Linked DNA regions of Homo sapiens. The protein of the gene in region 2 interacts with the protein of the main gene of each other region in a biochemical or structural test. Each region holds a gene or a part of one and is shown on either strand. Other genes may lie near its edges.

Region 1 (7,000 bases), on a different chromosome or scaffold from region 2:
TAGGTGCCCCCATCCCTCACCCCTGCCTCTGCCACCAGTGTCGGGACTCTTCTGCCTGGTGTGGGCCTGGGCCTGGGGGGAACTGATGGAGAGGCTAGAGGGGGCGTCCTGCAGGGAGAGGCCTCAAGGAAGGCAAGGCCAGCACCCACCCTCAAAGGGCCTCTGTCTCACCCAGGAGACTCCATCCTCCCAGCAAGGTCAGCCAATAACTGTGGGGATGGAGTGGAGCCGTGAGTGGGGGCAGAGGCCTAGACTCCCACCCCACAGGGCGGTCCCGGGCAAGGGCTCTCCATCTGCAAAGTGCAGCTCTGGCCCCTGCTCTAGGCTGCTATGGCTCTGGGAAGCCCTCCTCCTGCCCCTTCTGGGCCGCTTTCTCTGGGGTCCCCCTTGCCATGTGCTATGTGCCCAGGCCGTTTCTCAGGGCTGCCCGCTGTGCCCTACTGTGACCTCAGCCACTAGAACAAACCCGAGAGACCTGGAGGGAGCTCACCAGACAGGTCAGGGCTGATGATGTTCAAGCGCATGAAGACAGTCCTATGGACTTCCTGGAGGAGAAAGAGAGAGCAGTATGTGGCACCTTTGGGAGGCGGCTTCCAGGTTTACTCCCTGGCTCCGTGACCCCAGCCCACCCTAGAGCCTTGGCTTTGAATCCCATCTCCACCGCTTCGTAGCTGGATGCCTCTGGGTGAGTCCTGGAAGATCTGTGCTGTGGGAGGGTGCCTAGTGGACGATCCCTGGCTGCTGCTGAAATGTTTCCTGTGAGTTCCTGGAGGCCTTGATGCCCAGGAGCACTGTGGAAGCACTATGCATCCCTCACCCTTGTGAACACTTTGGAGCTATGAGCCAGGTCAGCCCAGAGTCCCAGGCTCACTCTGGCTGGAGGGAGAGGCCCACTTAGGGGAGTTGAAGGCTTCCCTAGCTTCCTATGACCAGAGAAGTTTGTAATCCTGGAGGCCTGTCTGTGCAAGGGCCTGGGGGTGACTCTGGGGGCGTCCAGGATAGATTGCCTGAGAGTGGGGGTCACCAGATGGTGAAGTGTTGTGACTGGCAAATACAGAAAGCCAGGAGTGTGTGTCCTTTGTCCGCCTCTCTTCCCTCAGGTCTCCTGTTCTTTGAGATTACACTGGTGACCATACTACATGGATGTGCGGGTGGTTAGATTCCTGGGTGGGAGGGTGGATGGATGGATGGACGGACGGGTAAGTGAAAGGATGGATGGATGGATAGATGGACAGTGGCAGCTGCATAGTCTGCCAGTGCCCCAGACACAGCAGTCCCACCAGAAAGCTCTCGGGTGGCAGAAAGTGCTGCTGGCAGCCAGACTGCCAGGCCACATGCCTGATTAAGGCTCCGCCCCTCACCAGCTGGCCCCACATCCCTGTGGGCTGCCATGTCCCTTCCTGCAAACCACAGACCTGGAAGCTCCCACTTGAAGCTGGGGCCGGCCCAGGCCCCACTCACCTGGTCTTGAGACCCGGTCTTGGGACGCAGGGCTACCGTGCAGCTGAGGGTGCCGGTTTTGGGTATGGGTACTGTGTAGAAGTGGAGGAGGAAGCTGAAGCGCGGGTCACCCTCGGGGCTTGGGGACAGCAGGCTCACACAGTTGCCCTTGGCCGCCCGGCCCTGGATGAGTTCCACGGTGCCTCCCTCAGGCCCCAAGTCCAGGTGGCAGCTGTCTAACTGGAGCAGGAACTCGGAGACGGATGGGGACACTCTGACCTGCATGGGTAGGTAGGGCCACGCGGCATGGGCAGCTGCTCTTCACCCCACCCCACCTGCTGCCTTCAAATATCGGCTAGAATTAAGAGTTCCCACCCCTGAGTCCTCACAGTGGAAAGAAAGACATGGACCTGTCTGGGGCAGAGGAGGAGGACAGGGCCACATCCTTGTCAGTGTCCCTGAGCAATGCCTTCTCTGTCTCTCCCTCTCCCGTGCACCCAGGCTGTCTCCCTCCTGACTCTGGGAGTCTCATCTCCTCTGGAGTCATGGTGGGAAGAAAGGCGGAGAGGAAGTTCCAGGAGCTGGGAGGCCCGAGGGGTGACAGGCATGCCAGGTACCTGCACAAAGCTCTGCTGCCCCGGCTCGATGGTGTTGGAGGCCTGGAGGAAGTGTGGGCTGAGGTAGAGGCCCAGCTGGAAAGAGAGGCTGTCCATGTTGAGGCAGTGCACCTTTTTCTGGGGGAGGACGGGAGGGAGACTTGGTCAATCTGGCGGCGCCAGCCAGGAGGGCGAGGGGTGTGGGGAGGAACAGGCATCATGGCCCTGTGGAGTTGCCTGACTCTCTTTTTTTTTTTTTTTGAGACGGAGTCTCGCTCTGTCGCCCAGGCTGGAGTGCAGTGGTGCGATCTCAGCTCACTGCAAGCTCCGCCTCCCGGGTTCATGCCATTCTCCTACCTCAGCCTCCCAAGTAGCTGGGATTACAGGTGCCCGCCACCACGCCCGGCTAATTTTTTGTATTTTTAGTAGATACGGGGTTTCACCATGTTAGCCAGGATGGTCTCAATCTCTTCACCTCGTGATCTGCCCGCCTCGGCCTCCCAAAGTGCTGCGATTACAGGCGTGAGCCACTGCGCCCGGCCCTTTTTTTTTTTTTTAAACTAATATTTATCAAGGAGGCACCAGCTGCCAGGCTGTGTGAAGAGCTTCCACACAGCACCTCATTGGCTGCCCAGAAGCACCCTGTGGCGCAGAGTCCTTTCTTAGGCCACCTTTGGGCCCAGAAAACTAAAGTGACTTGCCCAAGGCCACACAGCCAGTATGTGCTAAGCCCTCTGACTTGAGAGACCAAGAGCGTCACCCTCAGCAGTCCTGCTCCGGTCATACAGAAGGGGAGACCGAGGCATTCCAGACACACATGGCTTGCCAGGAGTTTCCCGAGGCCTGCTCCCTCCCAGGCCAGGAAGAGGCCCCGGCCCAGCAGCAGCCCCTGGGCCAGGTGGGTTAGCACGTGACTGTCCATCTCACCCGCTGTGGTGATGAGCTCGACAGGATATTGACCACCGCCTGCGGGGATAAAGCCAGGGAGCTGGTCAGAGCCAGAAAGGACCCCAGAGGGTATCCCACCCAATACGCCCATTTTTGCAGATGGGGAGACTAAGCCAACCAATGGCCAAGCTTGTCTTGTGTTCTGAGCCCCTGCAGCCTGCTCTCCCAAACACACCTCCACCCTGGGGGATCAGGGAGGGCACCTGAGGGGGCACCAACCAGGCTGGTCCTGATACCTTTTTGGCCCCAGCTCTTACCTCATTGCTGATCATACTTGCTGACACCTGCATGCCACAGCTGGAGTAAGCACTGCGCAAGACAAACTTGTCACCCCTGTCCTCTGCCTCACAGCTGGGGTCCCAGAAGGTCAGGCCCGTGATGGTGCACTTCAAATGCTGGGTCGGAAGAGAGGGGCACCATCAGGAGGCACTGGGGTCTCTGTGGCCTGCCACACCCCAGCACCAAGGACTGACCACAACCCAGGGGTCCCAAGTCACAGCCATTCCCCTGCCCTGCTCCCTCTTCATTTTTGTTAGATGTCATCATCCTACACCACTTAAAAGTTCTTTTTTTTGAGATGGAGTCTCACTCTTTTTGCCCAGGTGCAGTGGCTCGATCTTGGCTCACTACAACCTCCACCTCCTGGGTTCAAGCGATTCTCCTGCCTTGGCCTCCTGAGTTGCTGGGATTACAGGCACGTGCCACCATGCCCGGCTACTTTTTTGTATTTTTAGTAGAGATAGGGTTTCACCATGTTGGCCAGGCTGGTCTCAAACTCCTGACCTCAGGTGATCCACCTGCCTCGGCCTCCCATTGCAGGGATTACAGGCGTGAGCCACCGCGCCTGGCCAAATTTTCTTATATCTATCAAAATAAATACAGAACTATTAAAAATATTCCTTCAGGCCGGGTACGGTGGCTCACGCCTGTAATCCCAGCACTTTGGGAGGCTGAGGCAGGTGGATCATGAGGTCAGGAGATCGAGACCATCCTGGCTAACATGATGAAACCCCGTCTCTACTAAAAATACAAAAAAATTAGCCGGGCGTGGTGGCGGGCTCCCGTAGTCCCAGCTACTCGGGAGGCTGAGGCAGGAAAATGGCGTGAGCCCGGGAGGCGGAGTTTGCAGTGAGCCGAGATCGCACCATTGCACTCCAGCCTGGGCAACAGAGCGAGACTCCGTCTCAAAAAAAAAAAATATATATATATATATTCCTTCAAGTTCCACATATAATCATCACTCACAGCCCCAAGGGCATGCAAACCCTGCAAGCATAATCCAGTCTCAGGCCTGGCGTGGGCGAAGTGTTCCTATAAAGAGCCAGATAGTAAATACTGTCATGCACCATGGGACAATGTTGTGGTCGGTGATGGACTGTGTATATGATGGTGGTCCCTGGTCCCATAAAATTATAACGAAGCTGAAAAATTTCTATTGCCTAGTGTTTGTGGTGATGCTGGTGTAAGCAAACTTATTGCACTGCCGGTCATATAAAAGTCTAGCACAGGCTGGGCGTGGTGGCTCACGCCTGTAATCCCAGCACTTTGGTAGGCAGAGGCAGGCAGATCACAGGAGGCCAGAAGTTCGAGACCTGCCTAGCCAACATAGTGAAACCCGACTCTACTAAAATTATAAAAATTAGCCAGGTGTGGTGGCAGACACCCATAGTCCCAGCTACTGGGAAGGCTGAGGCACAAGAATCGCTTGAACCTGAGAGGAGGAGGCTGCAGTGAGCCGAGATCACATCATTGCACTCCAGCCTTGGTGACAGAGCGAGACCTCGTCTCTAAAACAAGAAAAAGAAGGCCAGTTGCAGTGGCTCACGCCTGTAATCCCCGCACTTTGGGAGGCTGAGGTAGGCAGATGACCTGAGGTCGGAAGTTCGAGACCAGCCTGGCCAATATGGTGAAACCCTGTCTCTACTAAAAATACAAAAAAGTAGCTAGGCTGCGGACCAGGCGCCTGATTTCACACCTGTAATCCCAGCACTTTGGGAGGCCGAGGTGGGCGGATCACAAGGTCAGGAGTTCGAGACCAGCCTGACCAACATAGTGAAACCCCGTCTCTGCTAAAAAAAAAAATACAAAAAATAAGCCAAGAGTGGTGGTGGGCACCTGTAATCCCAGCTACTCGGGAGGCTGAGGCAGGAGAATTGCTTGAACCCGGGAGGCAGAGGTTTCAGTGAGCCGAGATTGTGCCATTGTACTCCAGCCCGGGCAATAGTGTGAGACTGTCTTAAAAAAAAAAAAAAAAAAAAAAAGCCAGGCGTGGTGGTGCACGCCTGTATTCCCAACTACTCAGGAGGCTGAGGCAGGAGAATCACTTGAACCCGGGAGGTGGAGGTTGCAGTGAGCCGAGATTGTACCACTGAACTCCAGCCTGGGTGACAGAGCAAGACTGTCTCAAAGAAAAAAAAAGAAAAGAAAAGAAAAACCACTGTAGCCAAAATTGAAAGAATTACAGCAAATCAAGGGAAGTGGTGGCCAAAGGGGCAACCTTTTTTTCTTTATTAAAACTTATAAAAATCATCAAGAAAAATACCAAGCCTCAATGATAAGGAGACTGAGGTTCTCATCACTCACGTGGAACCATGCCCACACTCACTACTAACCAGAGAATTACAACTAAAACAAGAATGGAACGCCATGTGCCTCTTCCCACACTGGCAAAGGTTTCTCTTTTTTTGAATTATAGTCTGGAGACAGCGAAGAGGTTGAGGTGTTCTCGTAAATCAGTGGTGAAAATTCAAATCATCTTTGGGAAAGTGGGTTGGCAACATGTATTGAAACTTCATTCATTTTGACCCAGTAATTCCACTAATGTGGAAATCTATCCTGAGAAAATAATCCTATATAAAGAAATGTTTCATGCACAATGACATTTTTTGCATATTTATAATACTACAGAATTGGGAACAACCTAAATGTGTAACAAGGGAAGAGGAGTTAATTATAGCATGTCAATATGATGGAATAATATGTGCTTATTAAACATGATATTAGGTACAGCTGTCAAAGCTCTAAAAATACATTAAGTGAAATAGTAAGAGACAAATGAACACATCTCTTATGATTACATCAATATAAGAAATACACAGAGAAAACGCTCTAGAAAGAAGCACACCAAAATGTTGGCAGCCATTGTCTTTGTGTCAGAAGGTTAAGATTTTCTAATTTTCACATATTTTTTAAAGCATGTTTTTTGTTTGTTTGTTTGAAATGGAGTCTCGCTCTGTCGCCCAGGCTGGAGTGCAGTGGCACAATCTCAGCTCACTGCAATCTCCCTCTACCGGGTTCAAGCGATTCTCCTGCCTCAGCCTCCTGAGTAGCTGGGACTACAGGCGTGCACCACCACGTCCGGCTAATTTTTTCTATTTTAGTAGAGACAGGGTTTCACCGTGTTGCCCAGGCTGGTCTCAAACTCTTGAGCTCCGGCAATCTGCCTGCCTCGGCCTCCAAAGTGCTAGGGTTACAGGTGTGAGCCACTGTGCCTGGCCAGCATGTGTTCTTTCATTTTATTTTGAGACGAGTCTTGCTCTGTTGCCCAGGCTGGAGTGCAGTGGCATGATCTTGGCTCACTGCAAGCTCCGCCTCCCGGGTTCAGGCCATTCTCCTGCCTCAGCCTCCCAAGTAGCTGGGACTACAGGCGCCTACCACCATGCCTGGCTAATATTTTGTATTCACCATGTGTTATTTTTATAACAAATATATTTGTTTGTCAACCAGGCAGTGATCATATTGTATAGGCTTTTTTTTTTTTCTTTGAGATGGAGTCTCTCTCTGTCACCCAAGCTGGAGTACAGTGGTGCGATCTCAGCTCACTGCAAGCTCTGCCTCCCGGGTTCACACCATTCTCCTGCCTCAGCCTCCCGATTAGCTGGGACTACAGGCGCCTGCCACCACACCCGGTTAATTTTTTGTATTTTTAGTAGGGACAGGGTTTCACTGTGTTAGCCAGGATGGTCTCGATCTCCTGACCTTGTGATCCACCCGCCTCGGCCTCCCAAAGTGCTGGG
Region 2 (10,302 bases):
TTGCCATAGTAATTCGGGAGCGCTAGATTCAAAAGATTGAGCTATTATACGTTCCCGGACCAAGTTTGGCCACCTGTCATCCTCACTGCTGTTGCCATAGAGACAGTCCATGCGATCACAGCCCCCATAGCCCTGCTGAGTGACCTTGGCCAACTCGCTGATGACTTTTCTTATTAATTATTATTATTTATCGATTTTTGAGACTGGGTCTTGCTCGGTTGCCCAGGGCTAGAGTGCAGTGGTGTGATCATAGCTCACTGCAGCCTTGCCCTCCCAGGCTGAGGTGATCCTCCCGCCTCAGTCTCCTAAGTAGCTGGGACCACAGGCACACACCACCACCCCCAGCTAACTTTTTAAACTTTTTGTAGAGACGAGATGTCCCTGTGTTGACCAGGCTTGTCTTCAACCCCTGAGCCCCAAGTGATCCTTCCACCTCAGCCTTCCAAATTGCTGGGATTACAGGTGTGAGCCATTGCACCCAGCCTCTTTTTATTTCTTAATCTGCCCCTTAACTAAGCCAGAAGCCAGGCCTTCCCTTTCCCTAGGATCCCCATTTCACAGATGAGCAAGCTGAGGCTCAGAGATCATAAAACACTTGCCCCGCATACCACAGCAAGTGAGGGATCCTATTCCTTTTTTTTCTTTTTTTTTTTTTGAGACAGAGTCTGACTCTGTCGCCCAGGCTGGAGTGCAGTGGCGCGATCTTGACACACTGCAACCTCCGCCCCCTGGGTTCAAGTGATTCTCCTGCCTCGGCCTCCGGAGTAGCTGGGATTACAGGCGCCTGCCACCACACCTAGCTAATTTTTGTATTTTTAGTAGAGACGGGGTGTCACCATATTCGTCAGGCTGGTCTTGGACTCCTGACCTCGTGATTTGCCTGCCTTGGCCTCCCAAAGTACTAGGATTACAGGCATGAGCCACCGTGCCCGGCCAGGGATCCTATTCAAACCCAGCCCTGCTGGACCTCAGAACCCTGCCTTTTCATTGCCTTGCCTGGAATGACCACAGATGTAGGCATGGTCTTTTTATTTTTATTTTTATTTTTGAGACACAGTTTCACTCTGTCGCCCAGCCTGGAGTGCAGTGGCGTGATCTTGGCTCACTGCAACCTCCGCCTCCCAGGTTCAAGTGATTCTCCTGCCTGACCCTCCCAAGTAGCTGGTATTACAGGCACGTGCCACTGTGCCTGGCTAATTTTTGTATTTTTAGTAGAGACAGGGTTTTGCCATGTTGGCCAGTCTGGTCTCGAACTCCTGACCTCCGGTGATCTGCCTGCCTCAGCCTCCCAAAGTGTTTGGATTACAGGCATGAGCCACGGCGCCAGGCTGCATGGTCATTTTTTAGGGAGCTGGGAAAACTGGACATGCCCCCAAGCCCCAGGGTCTTCCAAATCCGATTGCAGCCCCCACATGGCCAATGCTGTATCAGCAGGTGGGCCCGGGACCCTGCTCATCCCTTCAGCCCCATCCTGCCCCTGCAACCTTGCCCGGGGGCAGGTGCCCCCTTCGATGATCTCAGGTCAGCATGACAAATCGTTTGGAGACCTGGGCAATCTGGTTTAACTTAAACCTTCTCCTAGGACACAAGCCCTGGCAGAAATCCACTGGTAAAATGACACCCGGGCAACAGTCAAGGTTTTATTTCCAGTTAGGTCCCAGGATGGGGGAAGGGAGAGGAGAAGTCACAGGCCATTGATCCCAACTGTCATCCCCTAGGGAGACCATATCCCACACCCCAGGGCCTGGGCCATGCCTCTTTTCCTCCTTCACCCTGGAGTCCTGGGAAGTTGATTTGAGAAGATGCTAGGAACACAATGAAAGCCAATTCATCCGATCCAGTTTTCAAGGGTTATTTATTAAACCCCTTGGTTCTGACCCCAAGCTAAGTGGGACTCAGCATCAGACCCTGCACTCAGAGAGCCCCCTGACTTGGGGAAGACAGAGTCAGAGAAAGGCAGCCCCAGTGTGGCCAGGGCTCAGCTGGAAGGAAGGACAAGGGGCTGGGAGAACCCAGAGTTCAAGAGATCTGGGAAACAGGGAACGGCATTCCAGACGGAGGGCACACCTTGGGCATGGGTAAGGAAAGCCCATCGTGTGTTCTAGGAAGCATGGATGGATGAAACGGGGTCCCAGCCGCTATGGACAGCCCCGAGTTTCACCTGTAAAAGGCAGGATTATTTGTTTTTAATTTTAATTTTAATTTTTTTGAGACAGTCTTGCTCTGTCGCCCAGGCTAGAGTGCAGTGGCACGATCTTGGCTCACCGCAAGCTCCGCCTCCCAAGTTCACGCCATTCTCCTGCCTCAGCCTCCCGAGTTGCTGGGACTACAGGTGCCCACCACCACGCCTGGCTAATTTTTTATATTTTTAGTAGAGACAGGGTTTCACCATGTTAGCCAAGATGGTCTCGATCTCCTGACCTCGTGATCCGCCCACCTGGGCCTCCCAAAGTGCTGGGATTACAGGCGTGAGCCCCCGCACCCGGCCAAAGGCAGGATTATTTGTTAAGCGGGTTGCAGTGTTCTACCAGACCCCCCACCCTCAACCCAAGCCCCTGGTCTCACTGGGACTTGGCCACTGCCAGGAGCGTCTGGCCCTTCACGGCTTCAGGCCCAGCACAGCGCGTGTCATTCTGGGAAAACATCTTGTCTTTTTGGGCCTGAAGCCAACGATAGAGGTCGCTCAGGTTCTGGTCACAGATCCAGGGGTTGCCGGAGATGTCGAAGCCATCCCGCATGTCCCAGTTTGGCTGCCCTAGGGATGCCCAGAGCCCCTCGGGCACGCTGGCCAGTGAGTTATTGGAGAGGTCCAGCATGTCCAGCTGCCGCAGGCCCTGGAAGGCACCGGCTGCCACCCTGGCCAGCTTGTTGCCGTTCAGGAAGAGGTAGCGCAGGTCCGGCTGCGGCAAGAGGAGATCTTTTCCCAGTACTTGCAATTTGTTGCCTTCTAGATGTAGCCGTTCTAATTGCAGCGGACCCCTCAGGAGGTCAGGTGGCAAGGTCTCCAACTGGTTCTCCCCAAGGTCAAGGGTGCGCAGGAGGGTGAAGTTGGCCAGCAGCCCGGGGGGCAGTTTCCGGAGGCGGTTCCCAGACAGGTCCAGATGCCCCAGAGCTTTCAGGCCGTGTAGCCACGAGACCTCCAGGACCTCCAGCTGGTTTTCTTTCAATACCAGGGTGTCCAGGGTGGCTGAGGCCTGGAAGAGGCCCGGGGGCAGCCCGGTCAGGGCGTTTCGGGTTAGATCCAGCACCCTCAGCTGCGGCACTGGCCGCAGGAATTCGGGCGAGAGGCTTTCCAGCCCATTGCTGGAGAGGTGCAATTCTTGGAGCTTAGAGGCGCCCTGGAGGAGGTTGGCTGGCAGGTGGGTCAGGTTGAAGAATTCCACGGCCAGGTGCACGGTGTCGGCTGGCAGGTAGCCGGGGATTTCGGCAGGTGGTTGACAGGAGATGGAGCTGCCATGGTCTGAGCGGAACACCTGGCAGTCTTTGGGGCTCAGGGTGACCCCCCAGGCTGAGGCTGCCAACAGCAGCAGCAGGAACAGAGTTCTAGAAACATGGGGTTGAATGCCCCCTGGGCTGCAGGCAGTAACAGAAGATGCTTACTAAACCACAGTGAAAATACACTCAGCTAGGTGAAAATACACCAGCAAATCCGCCCACTTCTTCCCATCTCTGCGGCTACCAGCCTGGACTATGCTACCTCATCTCTCACCTGTACTAGGGCAGTTGCTTCCTCCTCCTCTTCCAGCTTCTACCCTCACCCCCGACAGCTGCCAGAAGTGGCCCCTGTTCCAGGGAGAATTATAATTCTAGGAAAGTTGAGTTTCTGAGTGTAACTCCCGCATAATATGAATACACTTCCCCATCACCAGCCTAGCCCCCATGAGCTGTTAATTATTCACAGTCCAACTTGCTAGTTTCTTCTGATCTGGCTTATTTTCTGGGTCAGTCCTTGTCTCCCTGGCTCTGTGTTTTGATGTGAACTCCTATTCATCCTTCAAAGCCCCAGCTCCAATGCCCTCTTTTCCATGAAGACTTCTCTGCTCTGGGATCCTGGTCTTTTTGTCCACTCTTGACCAATTGGGTGCTTGGAGGAAGACAGACGTTCAGGTTCATGTTTTTGAGACAGAGTCTTGCTCAGTTGCCCAGGCTGGAGGGAACTGGCATGATCACAGCTCACTGCAGCCTCTGAACATGAAAAGTGTGTCCTGCTTTGGCCAGGTCTGAGGGTGGGCATTTGGCCTTGGGAAGCGGTGGTTTACACTTAGCACCACAACCCTTGGAAGCCTGGGGCTTCCCCTCCTCCTCCAGGGCTTCCCTGGCCCGGCAGCCATCAGACATGATCTCGACAGCCTTGGTCACTGTGGCCCCAGGCCTCTAACAAGAAGCCTCCCCCGGCTCCCTGCTGCCCATGCCCACCTGGGCTTCTGTAGGGGTGTGTGTGTGTGTGCACGCGCCAGTCTTTCTGTCACAGATAAGGTTGATCTGTGCCAGCCACCAGGCCTGTATCTGCTCCCTGTGACTTCTATGGGTTAGCTGGAATGTCCTGTATCTCCGCATGGTCTGGCGTTCAAACCTGCCTAGGACAGGTAGTGTGGGGACCTACCTTTTTGGTCGCTGTCTGCTCCAAGAGGACATGGTAGCTCTGCTCTTTTGCTTCTGGGTTGTCCTGGCCTGCGGAGGTGGCCTTATACCTGCCTGGACTGGGGGCAGGGGAACCAACCCTGGGGAAGTCCCCACCCCCGTCCAGTTCCTGATAGGGGCTGAGCCTAAGCCAGGCAGGGGAAGGGGAGGGGTCAGGATTACAAAATTGCTTCCTGGAAATTGTTTCCTGTTCAACCCCTTTTTGACCCTGCTTCTAGAACACAGGTTTTTCTTTCCTTGCTTCCTGATTTTTGGGGGGCATCCAAGAGTCTCTCTAGTTGCATCCTCACTTCCCCCAACCCGGAGTTCAAGGGTCAAGGTTTGCAAGGCACTATTCCTGGAGACAGGGACAGCTCTCTGAGCAAGAGGAGGGATTTACCATAAACTTGAGCAACCCAGAAGCTCACTGAAAAGAACAAAAAAACTCGTCTTGATTTCATGGTATGTTGATATTGCTTTTTTTAAAAGAAGTCATTTTAAAAATACAGTCCAATAGTGAGTAATGCCAAACGTCTCTACGGTCCTTAGACAGTGGCTTGGGAGGAACCAAACCTGGTTCTGAATTCCAGCTCTGTCATGAACACCTTTGCTTTGTGACCTTTGGCAAGTGACTTAACTTTTCTTGGCCTCAGTTTCCCCATCTATGAAGCTGAACTCAAATCTCCAAGGGCTCCTTCTGCCCTTTTTTCTCTTCATCTGAATCTGACATCCATGCTATTGTTTCCATTCTTCCTCATTTCCTATTAAATGCGTTTGGAGGCTACAAATTTCCCTTTGAGAACAGCTTTGGCTGCATCTCATGGACTTGGCTGCAGAGTGCTTGCATTCTTGTTGAGTTCTAAATATTTAGGTATGATGGTGTCACCTTTATCTGCAGCTATGACTATTTTTTTTTTCTTTTTTTTTTTGAGACAGAGTCTTGCACTGTTGCCTAGGCTGGAGTGCAGTGGCGTGATCTCCACTCACTGCAAGCTCCGCCTCCCGGGTTCACGCCATTCTCCCACCTCAGCCTCCCGAGTAGCTGGGACTACAGGCATGCACCAGCGTGCCTGGTTAATTTTTATATTTTTAATAGAGACAGGATTTTGCCATGTGGCCCAGGCTGGTCTTGAACTCCTGAGCTCATGTGATCCACTGGCCTCGGCCTCCTAAACTGCTAAAATTACAGGTGTGAGCCACCATGCCCCGTCATTTTTTTTTTTTTTTGAGACAGCATTTTGCTCTGTTACCCAGCTTGGAGCAGTGTGGTGCAATCATAGCTAACTGTAGCTTTGACCATGGGTCCAAGGCCTCCCAAGTAGCTGGGACTACGGGCACGTGCCACCATGCCTGGCTAATTTTTTTTGAGATGGAGTCTCCCTCTGCCACCCATGCTGGAGTGCAGTGATGCAATTTCGGCTCACTGCAAGCTCCACCTCCTGGGTTCAAACGATTCTCCTGCCTCAGCCTCCCGAGTAGCTGGGAATACAGGCACATGCTACCATGCCTGGCTAATTTAAAAAATTCTTTTGTATGTTACCTAGGCTGGTCTCAAACTCCTGGGCTCAAGGAATCTTCTCAGTCTCTCAAAGTGCTGGGGTTATAGACGTGAGCCACTGCACTCCGTCAGTCTTGTGCCCTGCCCAGTCTCCGGAGCCCAGCCGTTAGTTGGTCTTAATCAACATGGACTGAGAGGAAGGAAGGCTTGTGAAATGTAGTGACACAGTAACAAAACGATCCATTAAAATGAAATGAGATCACATCCCTGCTTAAAACTCTCTGATGGCTTCTTGTCCCACTTAAAACAAAATTCATAAGGCTGGCCAGGCGCAGTGGCTCACGCCTGTAATCCCAGCATTTTGGGAGGCCGAGGCAAGCGGATCACCTGAGTTCAGGAGTTCGAGACCAGCCTGACCAATATGATGAAACCCCGTCTGTACTAAAAATACAAAAATTAGCGGGGCGTGGTGGCGGGTGCCTGTAGTCCCAGCTACTGGAGAGGCTGAGACAGGAGAATTGCTTGCACCCAGGAGGCATAGGTTGCAGTGAGCCGAGATCGCGCCACTATACTCCAGCCTGGGTGACAAAGTGAGACTCTGTCTCAAAAAAAGAAAAAGAAAAAGAAAAAGAAACTGGCTCCTATGCAGATGAAGATGGGGACCCCGAAGTCTCCATGTTTCCACACTCAGCTCCCCAGATTTGTTTTGACCCAGCCTTTTTTTTTTTTTTTTTTTTGAGACAGCGTCTCGCTCTGTCACCCAGGCTGTAGTGCAGTGGTGTGATCTCAGCTCACTGCAACCTCTGACTCTCAGATTCAAGCTATTCTTCTGCCTCAGTCGGCCGAGTAGCTGGAATTACAGGAACCCGCCACCAAGCCTGGCTGATTTTTTGTATTTTTAGTAGAGACGGGGTTTTGCCATGTTGGCCAGGCTAGTCTCGAACTCTTGACCTCAAGTGATCTGCACACCTCGGCCTCCCAAAGTGCCGGGATTACAGGCGTGAGCCACCGCGCCCGGCCTGGCCTTGACTTTTGAGGGTGCCCCCACCCGTGCCACCCCCAGGAGGCAGAGCAGAGCCAGAGTCATGGGGGCCGGTGGTTGTAAACAGAGTTTTATTGATGGGGAGGGGGCTGGGGGAGGCAAACTCCAGAGAGGGCAGAGGACCCAGCCAGCCACGTGGCATGCATGGTCAGCTGGAGGTCAGAGGGGGGAGGTCACAAGGGGACGGGTGGCATGGGACTCTCTCACCACCCTGGGGCCGTATTTACAGAGGGGCCCCACCCACCTTCGCCGCCCCCCAGGCCCCCAAGCCCTTTAGACAGCTGCTGCCGATGTGACTTCCGGGCAGGCCCTCCTCGTGTCTCCTGCCTGAAACCCCGGCATTGTCCCCGCTTCCCTCTGCAGAGTGGGGGGGGTTCAAACTCCTAACCGGCACCTCGGAGACCCCCGGGCCTTCTGGAAGCCCCAGCGTCGGCTCAGCCAACGCCCAGGCCGCTGGGGCCACCACGATCGTCGCTCGTGGACACACACCCTGCACGCGTGGCCCACTTGACACACACGCCCACAGCAGCCTTCGCTGGCACGCACACACACGCCCACCTCCCCGGCCCCTTGCACACGAACACGGCACGCACACGCACGCACACCCACACACGCCAGGGGCCTGGGTTGGGGAGGGACCTTTCCAGGGGTGGGGGAGGGCTTAGGTCTGCAGCTGTGGCCCCCCATTCCCCACCGGCGTCCAAGCCTCCCCTGCCTGCCGCCACCCCGAGAACGGAGTTGTGCAATTGGTTAGAAAACCGCAAAAGAAACCAAAACTGCAAAAAAAACCAAAACCTACGCGCATAAGGTCAACCTCAAATCCATAGCAAAGTCCTCCCGCCCACCCACCCCCAAACCGTCTCAGCGTCCTGCGGCCCCGGGTAGGGGGAGGGCGAGCTGGTTGTGCTTCCTTGTGGCGGAGGGGGCCCCCCACTCCGCGGGTGGGTCGCGGGGGGGACTTGAGCACCCACTCGGAGTTGCCCCGGGCCCCGGCGTTCTGGCACCGTCTCTCGCTCCTGGTTCCCGTGGCTGGCACTGCCAAGGCATCGGGGGGCCCCCGGCCTAGGGCACGGGGGGCGCAGTCCTGTCCGCCCCCCCATAGGGGAGGAGGTGGGCCAAGTCTGTGCCCGGCCGGGCGTGGCAGCCGCGGTGGCGGTCCCCAGGCCGGGCCTCGCCGCTGTTGAACGTGTGGGTGCGGCGCAGGGTGGCGGCCGGAGGGGCGTGGGGGCCCAGTGGCCTCCTCAGGCTGCCCGTCGGGGGCGGGCTCCAGGGCCGCGGGAGGCCATCGGCGGCTGAGGCTGGGTCCAAGGGGCCCGTGGGCGCGGACACCACCCGCCGGCGGTCCGGGCTGGCGTGGGGGGTGAGCGGGAAGTCGCCGTGGGAGGCGCGGCCGGGCCGGGCAGCATAGAGGCGGCCGTCGGGGGTCGGCTCCCCAGGCGCGGGGGGCTGCTCGGGGGCCCGGGCGGGCGCCAGCAGCAGGAGGGAGGATGAAGCGGAGGCCGGGAGCAGGGGGTGGCCGTGGTCCCAGGCGCGGGGGCCCAGGGCGTGGGGGTGCGGGTGCGGAGTGGGCAGGCGCTTCTGCGGCAGCGGCGTCTGCTCGGGCGTGGGCAGCAGCCCCGAGTCCAGGTCGTGGGGCCCGCCCTGCAGCAGCGTGGCCTTGGCCCAGCCGTTCTGCATCAGGGGCGCCAGCAGGGCCTCCGGGGGAACCCCGGCGCCACCGCCACCGCCTCCGCCCCGGCCCCCGGGACCCTGCGCCCTGCGCTCGCCCAGGCGGCTGACGCTCAGCACCGCCTCGCCCGCCCCGTGCGCCAGGATGGCCTCCTTGTCCTTGCGCCGGGCCAGCTCCCGCCGCTCACGGAGGCCCACGAACCAGCCCACGCTGAAGCCGGACACCACGGCTCCCACCACGAAGGCCGCCACCGACGACGTTACCAGCAGGTTCACCGACACCAGCCCCGCGCGGTCCTCGGAGAGGCTGGCCCGCAGGAGTCCTGGCCGGGGAGCACAGGGGGGTTAGTGGGGCCGGCGGGGTGGCCCTGGGCATCCCTCCTACCTCCTCGGGGCCCTCTGTCCTCTTTTTTATTATTTTTATTTTTTTTTATTTATTTATTTTTTGAGAAGGAGTCTTCCTTTGTGTGCCAGGCTGGAGTGCAGTGGGGCGATCTCGATTCACTGCAACCTCCGCCTCCCATGTTCAAGTGATTCTCCTGCCTCAGCCTCCCGAGTAGCTGGGACCACAGGTGCCCACCACCACGCCCGGCTAATTTTTGTATTTTTAGTAGGATGGGGTTTCACCACGTTGGCCAGGCTGGTCTGAACTCCTGACCTTGTGATCCGCCCACCTCTGCCTCCCAAAGTGCTGGGATTACAGGCATAAGCCACCACGACTGGCCTTATTTTTATTATTTTTTAATTTTTTTTGTTTGTTTGTTTTGAGACAGTCCCCCAGGCTAGAGTGCAGTGGTAAAGCTCACTGCAACCCTGCCTCCAGCTACCTGTTTGTTTTATTAAAGACAGGATCTGGGCCAGGCATGATGGCTCACACCCATAATCCTAGCATTTTGTGAGGCTGAGGCAGGAGATCACCTGAGGTCAGAAGTTTGAGACCAGCCTGGCCAACAAGTGAAACCCATCTCTACTAAAAATACAAATTTTAGCCGGACATGGTGGTGTGCGCCTGTAATCTCAGCTACTTGGGAGGCTGAGGCAGGAGAATCAATTGAACCCGGGAGGTGGAGGTTGCAGTGAGCTGAGATCACACTACTGCACTCCAGCCTGGGTGACAGAGCAAGACTCTGTCTCAAAAAAAAAAAAAAAAGACATGTTCTCACTCTGTTGCCCAAGCTGGAGTACAGTGGCCTGATCACAGCTCATTGCAGCCTCCACCTCCCTGGGCTCAAGCGATCCTCCCGCCTCAGCCTCCCAAGTAGCTGGAACTACAGGCATGCACTGCCACGTCTGGATTATTTTTGGGTTTTTGTTTTAGAGACAGGGTTTCACTATATTCCCCAGGCTGGTCTCAAACTCCTGACCTCAAGTGATCGTCCTGTCTTGGCCTCTCAAAATGCTGGGATTATAGGCAGGAGCTGCCGCGCCTGGCCCCTTCTGTCCTGTTGAAGTTGGTCTGTCTGCCTTCTGTTGT

What was found.
Region 1: the proteins of LRG1 (region 2) and ENG interact in a biophysical measurement, tested with the Homo sapiens proteins (one study listed by IntAct).

Annotation. Positions count from the first base shown.
Region 1 is NC_000009.12:127,816,659-127,823,658, forward strand, and holds part of ENG (endoglin isoform 1 precursor), read right to left. Parts: intron 5,863-7,000; exon of another isoform or gene 5,680-5,862; intron 4,841-5,679; exon of another isoform or gene 4,537-4,840; intron 3,380-4,536; coding exon 3,242-3,379; intron 3,003-3,241; coding exon 2,964-3,002; intron 2,175-2,963; coding exon 2,058-2,174; intron 2,054-2,057; exon of another isoform or gene 1,942-2,053; intron 1,732-1,941; exon of another isoform or gene 1,720-1,731; coding exon 1,462-1,719; intron 1,200-1,461; exon of another isoform or gene 1,101-1,199; intron 686-1,100; exon of another isoform or gene 546-685; coding exon 491-545; exon of another isoform or gene 1-490. UniProt on the Homo sapiens protein: Vascular endothelium glycoprotein that plays an important role in the regulation of angiogenesis. Required for normal structure and integrity of adult vasculature. Regulates the migration of vascular endothelial cells.
Region 2 is NC_000019.10:4,535,379-4,545,680, forward strand, and holds LRG1 (leucine-rich alpha-2-glycoprotein precursor), read right to left. Parts: upstream 4,659-10,302; 5' UTR 4,636-4,658; coding exon 4,604-4,635; intron 3,574-4,603; coding exon 2,562-3,573; 3' UTR 1,024-2,561; downstream 1-1,023. Other genes in the region: SEMA6B (semaphorin-6B precursor), read right to left, coding at 8,223-9,151.